Linked DNA regions of Homo sapiens. The protein of the gene in region 2 purifies or fractionates together with the protein of the main gene of each other region. This does not show direct contact. Each region holds a gene or a part of one and is shown on either strand. Other genes may lie near its edges.

Region 1 (3,500 bases), on a different chromosome or scaffold from region 2:
TATATTTATCCTTCATTGATCTAAGAATACCTTGGCCACATGGCTGAATTAATGGAGTCACATTTGGGGAAAAGTACATGGCATAAACATGATTTTTGATGAGATGTCAGCTGGAGGATGAACAGAAAAGTTGTCAAGGTATAACAAAATATTTCAGTCATCATCCAGCCCAGCTTCCCTGCAGTGAGCACAAGCCACAGGTCCAAAATGTTTGTGAGACCAATCAGAAAAGATATCCCTAGTTAAACATGCCTTTTTGTTAGCATAATAATGGTCTGGTAAGAAATTCGCTGCTTGAAAACAGCAAGGACACAAACTTTTGCCTGTCATGCAAGTTTACGCTTATGCATGCCTGCTGCATTAGCACATCCCAGCAAAGTTGTTCTGCCCTTGATGTCCTCAGTTCCTGGAGGGGCTGTCTCATTAGCTGTAGTTGTGTCTTTCTGGAGCAATAAAACCAAAACAGTGATGTTCCATCAGCATTATAGACTTGTTCTGGCATCAGATTTTTGTCAGCAATGACCTTGGCAAACTCACCAATGAATTTCTTTGCTGCTTCATGATGCTTTGTCACCACATTAAAAAATTTGGTTTCATGTTTTTTCTTAAATTTCTGCAGCCAACATGTTGAATATTCATAGTTCCTTTTCATTTTCAGTTCCTCATCCTGATAGATCCTTGCTTGTTTCCTGACCCACATAGCATTAAGTGGCAGGTGTTCACTGCAACACCAAGGGATCCATCCTCGGTACATGATCAGGATCTTCATTTTTAGCTTTATGCAGTGTTTCTCTATTTTTCATTAATTTCTGTTTATCACTTTTAGCACAGAACTTCAACAGTTTATCCTTCTGTTTCTTCAGATCCTATATGGTGGTCACTCCAACACCATACTCTCCTGTAAGACGTTTCACACTTACACTGCTCTCCACTTTCTCCAACAGCTTGACTTTCTGTGCTATAGATAAACATAAATCTTTTTCTTATCACTGTTACCCAGAGGGTATCTGCACACCTTTTAGATATTTTAACAACATTTTTATAACACAGAGCAGAAAGTAAGCAAAAAAGCACAGTGAGTGACGCACGTGGGTTTTGGCCCCATGCAGGTCATTGTGGGGAACCTGCCCACTGGCATGTGCTTGCGTGGGGGAGTCGGGGCATGTGCAGAAAAGGCATGTCACAGCTGAAGGAGGGTGAGAGGGTCTCTTTTCCCTTGGAGACACTGAATAAACTACATGTTGTGGCCTGCATTTTGACTGCAGCCCATCACATGAGGTCAGGTGTGGAACTTGCCATTTGTACTGCCATGTTGGTACTCAAAAAGTTTCAAATTCTGGAGCATTTTCGATTTTGAATTTTCAGATTAGGAATGCTTAACGTGTGTTTTGCTTACCTGACTGCACGTCTGCGCAGGCCTCAATTTCGTCTTTCTGTAATTTGAGCACAGGAGTTGATGCTTCACATGCCGAGTAAGCTTTCCCAGGAGAGACCGTAATGAGATGTGTGGGGACTGGGCGTGCTGGGCTTCTCTGAGCAGAGGAATAGTGAGAGCCACAGCAGTAATTGTTAGTGTCCACCAAAGAGCCCTACAGACAACTGTTCTCTGTGCTGCTAGTTTTTGCTCCAGTTCTTACTGTCTATATGGTGAACCTCTGAAACTACATAAAGAAAGGACAGCAGGGGCCACTTGGCTAACTTGCACGGCTGTGAGCACTGCACTGCACCCCTCCACTGGGGAGTATTGGGTAAGCACCCATCGGAACACCTATCCCCTGACCCTTCTCGTCCTTGCTGGCTGGTTGTCATCGCATACCCAAGCCCAAGCATGCAGTTTCAGTTTGCCATGGATGTTTAGTTTTGGACACTATGGGAAACCTTCAGGTGCCCTTTCTTAGTGTAATTGTTTATTCTTTTTAAAGAACTGTGCTAACATTATTGCTACTTAGCAATAGTTTTTAATCTGGTGAAAATAACAGGTCAGTGGGCAGTGAAAGTTCTCCTGTCACACTTGTCTTCTCACCCATAAAAATCACTTAAAGCTCTGAAGCCAGCTTTGGCTAAAGGGGCATGATCTGCCCCGCAGAGGATGAAGAGCGAGCCCGCTGCAAGCTGTGACAGCAGACGCTCTCTTCTGCCAAGACCTGTGAAAAGCCAGTCTTAGTTGTCAAAACCAGCACCGCGGCACATGTCGTTCATGTCTGAGAGAATGAACTCAGAAGGAAGTCTCGTGTACATAGAAAGCTTTCGTTCTTACTCTAGGATGTCACCTACGTGACTTACAACCCAGCCCAGCCATCCCAGACCTAAGGGGTTCTTCCCTCTCCAGGGCAGGGCCTGCATGCAGTCCATGCTGCTGCCCTGTGTTGGTGACCTGTGTGTAGCCAGCCCATTATCAGCATCCTGTGGATTCCAAACCAAATGTATCATCAGTGGAGGGAGAGCTCAAGTGCCAGGTGGAGCTGTGGCCTAAAGTCACACTTCATCACTCCAGATTATGAATCGTCATTTGCCAGATCTCCAAATTGCTGAGTGTGGACAGCAAATGGATTCGTTTGTGCTGGCTGGGTGCAAAGAAGCAGCCAGTCCTCAGCTGCACTTGAAGTACTACAGGTAGTAGTAAAGGTAGCTTTTCCAAGCCGTTTAAATAAACGTCATTAAGAGTGGCCAAGTTGTTTGGGGGCCATGGCATCATGGTGGTGGATAGTAGGTGGAAGGAAGGCAGGCCAGCTCCCGTTTGGCCTGAGTTATCTCCACCAATGACAATGGTCCTTAACTGGAGGGAACATCATACAGGTTATTTCCACCCAAGATTGGAAAGACCACCTTGATCAGAGAGAGTTTTCCTTCCACATGACACATATCCAGCCTGAGTCCTCCAGCCCCTCTCCCTGCACAACCTGATGGAGGCTTGAGAAAGCACAGGGAGGAACACTTAGCTTGAAAATGTTCCTAAGGAAAAGGAAAGTGTGAATTCTGAGAACCAAGTGGCAGAATTGAAGTTTCACATCTGGCAAAAGCTTAAACAGATTATTATCAAATAGATGGTTTGTGAACGTTGAAAAGACAGCTGTGGTCTAGGACACCAAACCAATCCTGTTGGCAAGAGATCACCAAGACCTTTGACAACATCTCATCAGCTTATGAGAGATGTTGGTGACATGCAGAATGGATAATGATAGTGCAATGAAGTGGGTTTGAAACTGATTAAAAATGTTGATTAACCCCTTGAACACAGAGTTCTGGGCTCTTTGACCTGACGTGTTTGACATTTTCATCAATAATAACTTGAACAAAGTTGTAGAGGTTTACTAATCAAATTTAGGCATGATACAAGTTTGAGGGAGATGATTAACAGTAGATAACAAAATGAGAATTGAAAATAATTCATTTTGGTTGACTGGAAAATGATCAGATGGAATTTAACAGAGATATGTAGAGTCCTAGACTTAAAAGGTCAGGTAGGATTTGAGAGACCTGACTTGACAGCATTTTATGTG
Region 2 (3,500 bases):
GCGACAGAGCGAGACTCCATCTCAAAACAAACAAACAAACAAACAAACAAACACTTATATGCCTTAGTTTCTGAAGTCAGTAATTTGGACTTAAGAAAAAGAAAAGATAATACTTTGTTTTTATTATTTTATTTTGGAATCTACCACATTTCCAGCAATACTATATTTACGTATTAAAGGTCTAGTTCAAAAGTACGTGGAAAGGTCCCTTTTTTCAGTTCCTTCATTCTTCTACTCTCCAGGGGTCTACCCTTCACTTCCATTGTGCATGGGCAGTTCTCATATTGAAGTAAAGTTTAATCTGAGCAGAACTGCGTTTTTACCAACCTGCTGGCTTTAGTGATGTTTAGAGCCCCAGCTAAGTGACAAGTTTTGTGGAAATACGAGTAAAAGAGGAGGCAGTGATAGCAACAAACAGTGGAAGTAGCTTCTGTTGTTCACATTAATTGTCACGAGGAATATTCGTGTTTTAATAGTCGGGTGTTTCTGTATCACTGAAGTTCTTATACAGCCTGATATCATTTATGCATTAGATACCATCCCAGAATAAGCCTTTAAAAATGAAAGTGTTGTCAACTACTTCACGTATCATTTCAGGATAACTTCATATAGGAAAAAATAATTGACCTCAATCCCTATTAAAAATCACATTTATTGTCCCAACTGACTAGGCATATATAATATTGTCGTTATAAACCTTACAAAAAAGTCATACTACATTTTATTTTTAAAATAATGATATATGAAAATAATTTAATTTTCACCTGCCTGGAAGTTATCACATTATGATATTTGCAAACTTAAACAGTTATGTAACCAGACTCATTAATCTGGTTACTTCGTAAATTTACAAACTACGAGAAAATTCATAACCTTTTATTATGCACAAAGTAAAACAGGAACTAAATTTCCAGGAAATTTTTTAAATGTTTGTGGATGTGCATTATTCTTGCTGTCAGTTTTTGCCAAAGTATGTATTTTAGTGTCACTATTATACCAGATAAAGTAGCTCTCGTTTCTAACTTACAGGGACATATTGCTGCCCATTGGTAGTTTTCAGAAGCCCTCTTGTGACTGTCTTCTGCCTTGACCTAAGTGTTCACGTTTTTGGCATTGGATATAAAAAAACAAATCCATGTTCTACTTAACACATAGAGCAAATATAAAGCTGGGTGGGTATTTGCATAATGAAGTGGACTTACGTTTGTTTTATACAGGAAAGCGTTATAATGTTGCAGATGTGTCTGCTGCCATATGTATGAGCCTTGGCCTGATATGGTTTACCCTCGCTGACAGCACAACTGCACCAAATTTCAACCTGACGGGTAAGTAATTTATTTATATTCCTAGCTTTTATAGGCTTTTTAGTTTAGAATACGAATTTCGAATATTTTGTAAGCATTTTAAATGATAGTGTGACAGCTGCAATTTTCATATCTAACATAAAGCTTTTGGACTTTCCATATAAGATGTAGTGAAAATATCACAGCTCTGTAGATAAAACAATTTGTTTGTTTTTTAGTGTGCATGCATTTTGATGCTTCTCAGGAATGAAGTGTTGACTCAGATTTGTTTATGTCAGTTGTACCTTTATTATAATTATGTCGTAACTCAGTATTACGTTATTCAAAAATGAATATGAACAAATAATTGTTTTTGTGAAAACTGAGTTAACTGACACAACTTGATTGACAAGCAATAAAATCACTATTGAATGAGGTGTGGGTAAAACCACTGTGAATATTGGAGGGAAGCTCATAAACATATGAAAGGATTCTGTACTCTGCAGGGCACTTTTAAACAAAAACACCTTGGAAATCATGGAAAATGTGTGCTGAGTGTGTTTATACAAAGGAGAAAATATGGAATTCTATTCAGGACCCATGCTCAAAGAAAAAGGCCCTGACAGCAGCGTGCCTGTTTATGTGATTTAAATTAAACATTTTAGTAATAATAGGGTTTTTCAAAAATGACTTTTCTCTTCATCTGTTTTTTTTTTTTTTAATTAACTGAATAGCCACCAATCCCAATAGATAGATATCCTAAGAGTTTCTTCTACACTTTCAGAACTAGTGGAACTATTAGACTAGTAGAATATTTATGGAACTGTTATTTAATACGCTATTGAAATGTGAAATGTGATATGTACAGAACTAACTCAGTTTATTAGTATATCTTTTTTAATATCATCACATATGTACTTGTTACAACCGATTGTGAATAAGAATATTCTGGATTACCGAACAAATGTAGTTGAAGATCTGCTTTTGTTTTTTAGACCAATGAAATTTCTGATAAAGCTTGATTATAGTTCATATGTTTAAATAAGGAGGGTTTTTTTGTTTGTTTTTTTAATACCTTCTTGAAGGTGTGGTGCTTATTTCCCTGGCACTATGTGCAGATGCCGTCATTGGAAATGTTCAAGAGAAAGCTATGAAACTTCATAATGCTTCTAATTCTGAAATGGTAAATACTCTAGTGTTTTTTCTTCAAATTAGACAGATTTAAAAAATGGTGATACACGTAATTTGATGAAATAATTATTATAACTAGCATTGCATTTTTAAACTCATTTTTACAAAAGTAATACATTCAAACATTATAGGAAGGTAAAAACTAAAACTACAACTAGCAGTGCTAACCGCTTGTTGCATAGTTGACAAATTTTTTCCTCATTGATTTAGTTTTTTATGTATTAAAATAAAATCTTTTGTTATATCCTTTCTCTCATCTCTTTCTAGTGGGTAGTATTTTTCCATGTAGAAGTTTGTAATTTTTATATGGCCCAATTTGTCTTTTCCTTGCTGGCTTCTGGCTAAGTATCATGGTTGAAAAGAGCTTTCCTAACCCTGAGATTTAGAACATTTCATCCCTGTTGCCTACTAGTTTTGTGATTTCCTTTTTTATTAAGCCCTTGATCCAATCTAAAACTTTTTTAAAAGAACTTTTCTTTCAAATGACTACCATTTTTTCTAATATCATTTATTGAATAATCCACTTTCAGCTCATTTTAAATGCCCTCTTTATCATATCACACTCTTGTGTGGCATTCAGAATTGTATTTGAATTTATTTTTGCAATAGTACATATAATGACAGCAGCTTTATCAGACATTTATTATCTGTTAGGACTAGCTACCATTGTTCCTTTTCTTTTGCAGAATATTACTACCAGTAGTTATTCTGGGGTGTTTATATTCCCAAATAAACTAAAAATCCCATTGGTATTGTGATTGGTATGGCATTGAATTATAAATTAATTTAGGGAGAATGGCATCTTGATTATTTCAGTCCAAGAATAAGGTATGACTTTTCTTTTACTCAAGTGGTCTTTTTTTCAATGTCCATTAGAGTTTAAAGTTTTCTTCATGTAAATCCAGCACATTTCTTATTAAAGGTATTGTTAATAATAACTTATTAAAGTTATTTCATCTTTTTGTGGTTATTGCAAATAATATCTTTCTGTATCTCTTGTAACTGTTTTTTTTTTTTGCAAGTAGT

Evidence for each region. Proteins that work in one complex are often made in the same cells at the same time.
Region 1: the proteins of SLC35B3 (region 2) and UBAC2 purify together in Homo sapiens (affinity purification with mass spectrometry; one large-scale study listed by BioGRID and IntAct). This does not show direct contact.

What each region holds. Positions count from the first base shown.
Region 1 is NC_000013.11:99,378,854-99,382,353, forward strand, and holds part of UBAC2 (ubiquitin-associated domain-containing protein 2 isoform 1 precursor), read left to right. Parts: intron 1-3,500. UniProt on the Homo sapiens protein: Restricts trafficking of FAF2 from the endoplasmic reticulum to lipid droplets.
Region 2 is NC_000006.12:8,418,546-8,422,045, reverse strand, and holds part of SLC35B3 (adenosine 3'-phospho 5'-phosphosulfate transporter 2), read left to right. Parts: intron 1-1,217; coding exon 1,218-1,325; intron 1,326-2,368; coding exon 2,369-2,466; intron 2,467-3,160; exon of another isoform or gene 3,161-3,302; intron 3,303-3,500. UniProt on the Homo sapiens protein: Probably functions as a 3'-phosphoadenylyl sulfate:adenosine 3',5'-bisphosphate antiporter at the Golgi membranes.